Regions from separate parts of the Homo sapiens genome. Here region 2 is linked to region 1. The links come from fine-mapping of genetic effects on gene expression. Tissue or cell type: whole blood. Region 1 holds a variant in brackets; the other region holds the start of a gene. All regions are shown on one strand. Distances are from middle to middle.

Region 1 (5,523 bases):
CAATTAGAGTTATGTTTTTTCAAGTGGAAACTTTGTAAACTGCTGCTAGTTTTCCATCTGCACTGACAGCATAATGCACAATGGTCATTTTCTGGTGAAATGAGAACAAGTCATTGAGATCTGTACTGACTTCCGTAGAAGGACAAACACGCAGTAGTGTGTCTTCTGAAGCTTGCGGATTTTCAATTTTTTTTTTTTTTTTTTTTGAGACAGAGTTTCACTCTTGTTGCCCAGGCTGGAGTGCAATGGTGTGATCTTGATTCACTGCAACCTCCACTTCCTGGGTTCAAGCAATTCTCCTGCCTCAGCCTCCCGAGTAGCTGGGATAACAAGCGCCCGTTACCATGCACAGCTATTTTTTTTTGTAGTTTTAATAGACATGGGGTTTCACCATGTTGGCCAGGCTGGTCTCAAACTCCTGTCCTCAAGTGATCCGCCCACCTTGGCCTCCCAAAGTGCTGAGATTACAAGCATGAGCCACCGTGCCCGGCCTCAATGTTCTCCAAGCACATTACATTGTATAGAAAAATTAATAAATACGTTGGGTGACAAGTTAACTTATTACCTTTAAGGGCTTATTACCGTTTATCACTTTTCCTCCCACTTTTATTAAGGTTATAATTAAAAAATAAAAATTGTATATATTTACAATATACATGGTTTGATGTACATAGACCTCGTGAAATTAAATCTAGCTAATTAACATACCCACCTCGCACTTATTTGTGGTGAGAACATTTGAGAGCTAATCTCTTAGTAATTTCCAAGTATACATTAACTACAGTCACCACACTGTACAATAGATCTCCAGAACATATTTAACTTAACTGAAACTTTTTACCTTTAACCAACGCCCTCCCAAGCACCGCTCATCTCCCAGCCCCTGACAACCACCACTCCGCTCTCAGCTTCTGTGAGAGTTTGACTTTCTTGGATACCACATATAAGTGAGAAAATGCAGTATCTGTCTTTCTGTGCCTGGCTATTTCATTTATGAATAGGTTCATCTATATTGCTGCAAATGACAGGATTTCTTCTTTTGTAAGGGTGAAGAGTATTCCAGTGTACACATATACCACATTTTCTTTACCCATTCATCTACTGATGAACACTTCCACTGTCTCCATAACTTGACTATTGTGAATCATGCTGCGAGGGACACAGAAGTACAGGTATCTCTTTGATTTCAATTCCTTTGGATGTATACCCAGAAGTAGGATTGCTGGATCATATGGAAGTTCAGTTTTTATTTTCTGCAGAACTTCCATACTCATACTATTTTCCATATTGGTTGTACTAACATTCTCATCAACAGTCTAAGAGGGTCCCTTTATCTCACATTTTCCCAACACACTTGTTACCTTTTGCCTTTGATAATATCCATTCTAGTAGATGTGAGATGATACCTCACTGTGGTTTTGTATTTTTTAGTAGAGACGAGGTTTTGCCATGTGGCTAGGCCAGTCTTGAACTCCTGACCTCAAGTGATCTGCCTGCCTCGGCCTCCCAAAGTGCTGGGATTTACAGGCATGAGCCACTGCATCTGGCCACTCACTGTGGTTTTAATTTGCATTTCCCTGATTAGTGATATTGAGCACTTTTCATGTATCTGTTGGTCATCTGTATGTCTTCTATTGAGAAATTTCTATTAAGGTCCTCTGTTCATTTTTTTTTTTTGAGACGGAGTCTCGCTCTGTCGCCCAGGCTGGAGTGCAGTGGCGCGATCTCGGCTCACTGCAAGCTCCGCCTCCCGGGTTCACGCCATTCTCCTGCCTCAGCCTCCCGAGTAGCTGGGACTACAGGGGCCCGCTACCACGCCCGGCTAATTTTTTGTATTTTTAGTAGAGACGGGGTTTCACCGTGTTAGCCAGGATGGTCTCGATCTCCTGACCTCGTGATCCGCCCGCCTCGACCTCCCAAAGTGCTGGGATTACAGGCGTGAGCCACCGCGCCCGGCCTGTTCATTTTTTTAATCCGGTTATTTATTTTCTTGCTATTGAGTTGTATGGGTTCCTTGTATATTTTATATATTAACCCCTTATCAGATGTATGGTCTGCAACCATTTTATCCCATTCTACAGGCCATCTCTTCATTCTATTGTTTGTTTCCTTTTCTATGCAGAATTTTTTTTTTAGTTTAACACAATCCCATTTGTCTATGTTTGCTTCTGTGATACTTTTGAGGTCATATCCAAAACATCATTGCCCAGGCTAATGTCAAGAAGCTTTTTCTCTGTGTGTTCTTCAAGTAGTTTTATACTTTTGGATCTTACTAAGTCTTTAGTCCATTTTGCAGTCAAATCCTCTACCCCTGAGCCATGCCCCCAATCTTTAGTCCATTTTGAGTTGATTTTTGTATATGGTGTGAGAAAGGGGTTTAATTTTTCTGTATGTGGATGCCCAGTTTTTCCAACACCATTTATTGAAAAGACTCTCTTTTCCCCATTGTGTGTTCTTGGCAACTTTGTCAAAGAGCCAACCGACTGTAAATAT[G/A]AATTATTTCTGGGGTCTCTATTCTGTTCCATTGGTCTATATGTCTGTTTCTACACCACTACTATGCTGTTTTGATGACAGCTTTTTAGTATATTTTGAAGTCAAGTAGCATGATGCCTCCAGCTCTCTGTTTTTTTGTGTTTTTTTTTCGTTTTTCAACAAACCAAAACTTAAGAGATGCAGCAAAAGCAGCACTACAAGGAAGTTTACAGCAATCAACTCCTATATTAAGGAAGAAAGAGCTCAAATACACTTAACTTTACACCTCAAGGAATTAGAAAAGGAACAGCCCAAAGTCAGCAGAAGGAAAAAAATGAACATTAATGAAACCAGGAGTTTTTGAAAAGATAAAACTGACAAACCTTTAGCTGAACTAAAAGACAAAATTATACATGAAAGATGAGACATTACAATTGATACCACAAAAATACAAAGGATTATATAAGATACTACTATAGACAAATATATGCCAACCAATTAGATAACCTAGAACAAATGGATAAATTCCTAGAAACATACAACTTACACCAAGGCTGAATAATACAGAAATAGAAAATCTGAAGAGACCAATAGTAAGTAAGGAGATTGAATCAGAAATCACAAACCTCTCAACAAAGAATATCCCAGGATGTCACGGCTTCACTGGTGAATTTCATCAAATATTTAAAGAGAAGAATTAACACCAACCCTTCTTAAACTCTTTCCAACAACTGAAGAGGATGGAATCAACCCTTCCAAACTCATTTTGCAAGGCCAGCAAGGACACTACAAGAAAATAAAATTATGGGTCAATGTCCTTGATGACTAGAGAAGCAAAAATCCTCAATATAATACCAGCAAACCAAATTCAAAAGCACATTAAAAGGATCATACACCATGAACAAATGGGATTTATCCCTGGGATGCAAAGATGGTTCAACATATGCAAATTAATTAAAATTAACTAATACCACGTTAACAAAATCGAGGATAAAAATCAAGGGATCATCTCAATAGATGTATAAAAATCATTTGAAAGAATTCAACATCCTTTCATGATAAAAACTCTCAACAGATTAGGTATAAAGAATGGACCTCGACATAATAAAGGCCACATACGGCATGCCCGTAGCTAATATCATACTCAGTGGTAAAAAGCTGAAAGCCTTTCCTCTAAGATCAGGAGCAAAACAGGATGCCCACTCTTAACCACTTCTATTCAATATAGTACTAGAAGTTTTAGCCAGAGCTATTAGGCAAGAAAAATAAAATACATCAAAAATGGAAAGCAAGAAGTTACTCTGTCTCTGTTTGCAGATGATATAATCTTATATATAGAAAACCTTCAGAACTTCACCAAAAGATTGTTAGAATAAACTCAGTGAAGTTGTAGGATACTAAAATCAACATATAAAAATCAGTAGCACTTCTATTATATATACTAATAATGAACTATCTAAAAAATAAAGAAAATGATTTCATTTACAATAGCATCAAGAGAGAATAAGGCCGTGTGCAATGGTTCACACCTGTAATCCTAGCACTTTGGGAAGCCAAGGCAGAAGGACTGCTTGAGTCCAGGAGTTCAAGACCAGCCTGGGTAACGCAGAGATGTCTCTACAAAAAAATTTAAAAATCAGCCAGGCATGGTGGTACACACCTGCAGTCACAGTTACTTGGGAGGCTGAGGCAAGAGGATCACTTGAGCCCAGGAGTTCAATGCTGCAGTAAGCTGTGATCGCACCACTGCACTCTAGCTCAGGTGACAGAGTGAGACCCTGTCTCAAAAAAAAGAAAGAATGAAATACTTAGTAATAAATTTAACCAAGGAGGTGAAAGATCTGTATGCTGAAAACTATAAAACATTGCTAAAAGAAACTGAAGACATAAATAAATGGAAAGATATCCTGTATTCATGGGTTGGAAGAATTAACACTGTTAAAACTGTTCATACTCCCCGAAGTGACCTACAGATTTAATACTATTCCTATTAAAATTCCAATGTAATTTTTTACAGCGGAAAAAAATATTGTATGGAACTACAAAATGCCCCAAACAGCCAAAGCGTTCTTGAGCAAAAACATGCATGACATTTAAAAACTGGAAAGTTTTCAGCCAGGCATGATGGCTCATGCCTATAATCCCAGCACTTAGGGAGGCCGAGGCAGGTGGATCACTTGAGGCCAGGAGTTCAAGACCAGCTGGGCCAACATGGTGAAATCCCGTCGCTACCAAAAATATAAATATTAGCCAGGTGTGGTGGCTCATGCCTGTAATCCCAGCTACTCGGGAGGCTGAGGCAGGAGAATTGCTTGAACCCAGGAGGTGGAGGCTGCAGTGAGCTGAGATTGTGTCACTGTACTCCAGCCTGGGCAACACAGTGAGACTGTCTCAAAAAATAAATAAATAAAAAACAAAAGCTGGAAAATTTTCAAACAAAAACTTTTATAGGTGTCATTTATGAAGTACTTACTATGCCAAATGTGTAACAAATATGTTGTCCCTTATAACCATCCTCTGAGGGACAATCATTATTTCCATATTACAATTAGGAAAATGGAGGCTCTGATCCAATCAGAGACAGAATTCCACCCCAACTCTGACTCCTTCCTTATGTTCTAAGCTGACTCTCAAACAAATAACTAAGCAAACAATAGCTTTTGCTAGATAGCACCACGCTGTTGAAACCCACCTGTTTGAAGGAACCTCTGCAGGTATCTATAATTAAGTTAGGACTGTTCCAACTTGAACTAGTTGCTGTCAATTTAGTTTTAAAAACTGCTCCAGCCTGAGGCAGAATGTGCCTCTTAGGATCCTCAAAATTGTTTTGTCAATCATGGAGTAATCTTTACTGAAATGCTATAAATGTTTTTCTTTCCCTCTTCTTCCTGGAGAACTGATAACAATTCTGAAATGTGTAAGATGTCTGCCCCTCCTTTACTCAACTTTTTACAAAAAAACAGGGCCCTGAGATAGAGGGCCTTGCACACAGTCTCCTGCTCAGCTGCCTGAGAAGGCATTACTGAGCACTTACTACATCCCCATTTTTTG
Region 2 (5,523 bases), 37 kb after region 1:
ACCAAAAAAAAAAAAAAAAGATGGCATAAGCTGTCACCCATGCAACAGGCCTAAAACTTCCCGAAACACTTGAAAACAAGTTGACTTTTCTTATTGAAGGGTGAGTGAGAAGTGTAGTGGATGTTGCATAATTTGGATAGCTTCAACTCTCCTTACTAAAAATGATTTTTAAAACATGCACACATTATCCAACAAAAAGCCCGAGTGAAGTGTCCAACTTTTCACAGACCCACTCTGCTCTTTCAGAATCTGCTCACCCTATAGTTATTCCATCTCAACAGTCCTCAGCTCCCACAAGCACTGCCCCTTTCGGCCATTATCCCATTCCTCTTCCCAGTTCCTTGCACTGCCCCCAACTAGATCCTTTTCCATCCTCCTCCTCCCACTTGGGATAAAAAGTTAATGTATGCACACATTAACTCAGAACTATTTGTGAACTGATACTCATGAAATGAAACTAGTCTTGAATGTATCAATTCCAGTGGCCATTTGCCTGTGGTTTTTTGGTTTCTTTCTTTGGGGCCAGTTTGGATATTTTAAAAAATTACTTTTAAGCCTAGTCTTTTTTCCTTCTAACATTCCCTGCCGAGCGCGCACGCACACGCACACACACACACACACACACCCAGAACTCACTTTCGCTGAGGCAGAACCTCGACTAGAGTGATTTATGGACTAGGCAAGTCTAGAGCCCAGAAAGCATCCCTGTGCCCTAAGGGGATAAAATGTATTCCCAACTTGTGGGTCTCTACAGGAGGCAATTATTCCTCTACTGGCAGCTTCTCTTCCATCCTTATTCATTTTAACCTCCCCATAGGACAGCCAATACTTAATTTTTCTTCCATTGCTTCAGCAGCACCTTTCCCCAAACCTAGTAACAGAAAAAGGATCAAAGTTAATCACCTCTCAGTTTTCTCACTCAGTCTCTATCTTAGAAAAACTTCCTAAGTAGCTGCCTTAAAATGAGGGAGAAGGGCTGGGAGATGGAAGAATGACTGCTAATCGGTATAGGGGTTCTTTTTGGGGGCAACGAAATGGAATCAGATGGTAGTGATGATTTCATAACTTTACGGATATATTAAAAACCACTGAATTTTGACCTTAGAAGAGTAAATTTATATGTTTATTACACTTCAATTTTTTTTAAATAAAACGTGCTCAACATTTTAGTAGAGAAAGTTGGATGAAAGGAGAAACTGGCAGATGAACAGCTACTTAGCTGTTAACGCCACCTAAAAATGAACTTGAATAAACTCAGGAATTCAATATAAGCAAACAGACCCTCATTTCCATTCAGCTCCAGAGGTGGGGGGCAATGACGGTGAGGAAAGGAACTGCACGATTACACATCTGGATGATTAAGCTTCCTTATTAGCCTCGGGTATCAGGGTCTAATAGAATCCACTATTTAATAAGATGGGCTGACCCTCCGCAGAGGCCACGTGCGGAAAGCGAGCGCTGGCGGACGCCATAAATTGTTAACGCCAACTCGCCCAAGGCCTTCACTAGGTCACGCTCGTGCAGCACGGCTCGTGCTGACCCGCAAGAGCCACCAAGAACAGTTGCCTCTGAAAGTTCCACGGGACCCGGGTGAAGGAGATGAACGGTCAAGGAGCCGTGGCTGCCGCGAGCGCCACTGCGTGTTGCCCAAAGCGGCACAGAAAACGCAACATTCGGGGACCAGCCCGCTTCAGGGCCCCTACACCTTCCCTCGACCTGGAACCGCGGGACCTCGGAAACCCACGCTGCCCGCGCCGGGTTGGGCCGCCCCAGAGGCCGCAGCGCCCACGCCCCTCCCCCGCCTCCCCGCCCTCCAGCCCCGGCCGAAGCCACCTCGGAGTTGGCGGAGGGCGACCCGAGGCCACCTGCCCCTCTGGGGCCGAGGATAAAGGGGTCTTGACCGCCACTCCCTCCCGCGAAGGGCAACATCCAACTCCACGGAGAGCCGCTTCAGAGAGGGTCCCCCGTTCCGCCCCGGGCTAGGGAAGGGCCCAGAGGCATCCGAGGGACAGAGCGCCGGGCCGGGGTAGCCAGGCGCCCGCACCCTCCCGCCGGCCGGCCCGGCCCGAACTTTCTCGCTGCTCCGTGCCCGGCGCGCCTCTCCCTCCTCCAGACCGGCCGAGCGCCGCCGCTGCAGAGCGCGCCAAACTCCGACGGCCGCGGGGCCGACGCCACCTCTCGGACCCCCCCCCAGGACCGCCCCGAGGCCGCCGGGTTCACCCGCACGAGCGGGAGCCCGCGGGGGCTGCCCTCCGCCACCGCCACGGCCGCCGCGCAACCCCGGCGCGCGCCAAGTCGGCTCCGCGCGGGGCCAGCCCGAGGCAGGGGTAGGGGCCTCGCGCTCCGGGACAACCTCGCCGCGGCACGGGGCGCGGCACGGCCCCGCCGCGTCACTCACCTTCGGCCGCTCCTCCCAACCTGCCGGCCGCTCGCTCGCTCCGCCGCGGACCCGGAGCTCGGGGAAGGGCGGGGCGCAGGGGGCGGAGTCGGCCCCGGCTGGCAAGCGCCAGAATTAAAGCCCGAACCGCACGGCCGCCGCCGGGGCGGGGAAGCCGGGGCGGACCAGCAAGCCTCTCACCCGCGGTGGGCGACAGCTGTGGCTGCGCCCCGGAGCGGCGCGTGAGAAGAACGGCGCGGGCCGGCGAAGCCCCGGCTGCTCCCTCCGCCCAGAGGACGCCCGGCTCCCCGCGGGGGCGCTCTTTGTACCGCGGAGCCGGCCGCGGGCGGCCCTCAGTGCGCCTGCGCGCCGCTGCAACTCCACCAGGCCCGCGGGGCACCTTCGTGCACCTTCGTCGCCGCGCCTGGCCCGCGGGCCTCGCCGCGGCGAGAACTAAGCAGAAGAACTTCCTCCACCGCGGTTCGCTCCTTCTGCCAACCCGTATTTACCACGTCCATCCTCGCACACACACCCGCAAGGGGAGAAGAAATCCAGCCCCCGTGAGACGGTGCGGTGCTCCCATCTCCGGCTGGGGCGGGGGTTCTGGCAACGAGGCTGGCCTGCTCGACGTCCTCCCCCAGCGCCTCTGTACCTCCTCTCCCTCCCCGGGTGAGGGGGACCGGAGCGTGCAGAGCTCTGTTTCCTGCAGGTGCCTCGTCAGCACGGTCGCCCCGGCGGCCAGAAACCTCCCGCCTCCAAGGGCACCTCCCTTGTGACCTCCGTGCATTCGCCCTGGCTCGGCTGCAGGACAGAGTCCTCGGCGGAAAGGGGAGGATGCGTGTTCAGAAGGTTGCAGGTCTCTGGGGACTCCACAGAAGACCCAACGCCTGCCTCGGGGGCTCAGGATTGAACTGGCTTCCTAGTTCAGTCCCAAATACTCGATTTGGAGCAATCCAGTAGGTCCATGAGAAATTAGTAGGGATTGAGAAGCTGTGACTTCAGTCTTTTTCAAATTGAAGGTGGCTTGAACAAACAGAAGAGGAGCTTGGGAACTGAAGGGACGACTTTATAAAAACCAGGTATTACTCAAAAAACAATGTTAGCTCTGCAGTCAACTGATTTTCTTAAGGGAGAGAGTCCTCCCCTCACCCCCAAGCTCTCTAGCACCGCACACATCCAGCAGGGCGTTACACACGCTCAGTCTTTTTTGTGAGTGTGCAAGTGAAGAGCCATCAAACTTCACAAGGCGACATGCTTGCCTCTGGGGAGAAGACGCTGCTTTTCCACAGTTCACAGCGAAGCACACCTGCAAATTCCTGAACTTGATGGCTCCTGACTGTTTAGGGAATAGGCAAAGGGCAGCCGGAAGATATGTGAAGGCAGGAAAGCTCATTTTGAATCTCAGCGCCTTTGCCAGCTCACTGGGTGGCAGTAAGCAAACTCTTTCCTCCTCCTGGGCCTTGCTTTTTCGTCTGTAGAGTAGGGCATTTGGATGCAGTAGATATTTTCTAAAATCCCCCACCACCACCACCCCGCCCCAAATGTCTACTCTTCTATGAAAAGGAGAATTGTTTGCATGGTGATAAGGGATGAGATATCAGAGGCAGGAAGACTCCTGCATTTTAAAAGTGCTCGTCGGCCAGGCGCAGTGGCTCAGGCCTATAATCCTCACACTTTGGGAGGCCGAGACAGGTAGATCAGTTGACCCCAGGAGTTCTGGGCAATACAGTGAAATTCTGTTTTCACCAAAAAAAAAAAAAAAAAAAAAAAAAAATCAGCTGGGCGCGATGGCGCGCGCCTGTAGTCCCAGCTACTCTGGAGGCTAAGGTAGGAGGATCGCCTGAGCCCTGGAGGTCGAGGCGGCAGTGAGCAGAGATTGAGCCACTGCATTCTAGTCCAGGCTACAGAGTGTGACCCTGTCTCAAAAATAAATAAATAAATAGTGCCCTCGACCGGGTGCACTGGCTCACACCTATAATCCCAGCACTTTGTGAGGCCGAGATGGGTGGATCACTTGAGGCCAGGAGTTCAACACCGGCCTGGCCAACATGGTGAAACCCCATGTCTACTAAAAAATACAAAAAAATTCGCTGGGCGTGGTGACGTGCACCTGTAATCCCAGCTACTCGGGAGGCTGAGGCAGGAGAATCCTTGAACCCGGGAAGCTGAGGTTGCAGTGAGCCGAGATCATGCCACTGCACTTTGGCCTGGGCGACAGAGCACGACTCTAAGAAAAAAAAAAAAAAAGTGCTCTCCATCCCCAGAATTCCCAGCCTTCACCTCTCCTTTATTTCTCCCTCTTTGCATTTAGTCAGTAAACATTGATAGGCCCTCAAGAGTAAGCAAAACGAATCAATCAAAAGTATGGCAGATTCTGAATTTTTAGTGGATTTATACTTGAAATTTCATTTTTAATTTAGTTATTTTATTGACATACAATTCACATGCCATACAATTTACTCCCAAAATGTATAATTCAGTGGTTTTGAATATATTCCCAAAGTCACACAACCATCACCACTAATTCCAGACATTGACATCCCAGTAAGAAACCCCATACCCATTAGTCACTCCCCATTCCTCCCTACTCCCAGCCGCTGGCTACCACTAATTTACTTTCTGTCTCTATGGATTTGCTGATTCTGGACGTTGCATATAACTAGGAACATAACAACATGCTACTAGCTTCTTTCACTTAACATAATAGTTGCAAGGCTCATCCATGCTGTAGTATGTTTCAGTACTTTCTTCCTCCCCCTACCCATTATACCATTTACTGATGATAGAATTATACTGGAAAACTGTCACAAAAGAACAATCTTTGAATAGAACCGTTTACTAAGTGAAACATTTCTTGAAATATAACATGCGAAAGATTGTCAAACATGTCAGCATAGAAGCCCTTGGATTTATATAAAGACTCTCGCGAGGCTGGGCGCTTGTGCCTATAATCCCATCATTTGGAGATCCCAAAGCAGGAGGATAGCTTGAGCCCAGGAATTGGATTGAGACCAGCCTGGGCAATAAAGTGAGACCTCATCTCTATTTTTTTAAAAAGTAACAATTAAGAAAATTAAAATACTCTCAGCAGTAATTTTCACAAATTCCAATCGATATCATATCAAGCAATTGGGGTGTGTGTGTGT

What was found. PIP is the estimated chance that this variant, and not a neighbour inherited with it, causes the effect.
Region 2: KANK1 starts here. The variant in region 1 is fine-mapped to the expression of KANK1 in whole blood (TOPMed, PIP above 0.99).

What each region holds. Positions count from the first base shown.
Region 1 is chr9:538,243-543,765 of GRCh38, reverse strand. The region is part of intron 1 of KANK1 (KN motif and ankyrin repeat domains 1); the gene reads right to left. Among named protein-coding and RNA genes, the nearest start is that of KANK1, 36 kb to the right of the region's middle. The variant G/A (reference allele first, on the strand shown) is at 2,494.
Region 2 is chr9:501,630-507,152 of GRCh38, reverse strand. It overlaps KANK1 (KN motif and ankyrin repeat domains 1), which reads right to left and starts at 2,458. Exons shown (of 12, transcript NM_015158.5): 1 at 2,399-2,458. LOC105375947 (translation initiation factor IF-2-like) reads left to right here and starts at 1,600. Exons shown (of 4, transcript XM_047424276.1): 1 at 1,600-1,893; 2 at 1,984-2,214; 3 at 2,332-3,456. The coding sequence starts at 1,600. The coding sequence ends at 3,153. It also overlaps the pseudogene FAM217AP1. RefSeq lists a silencer at 2,333-2,822.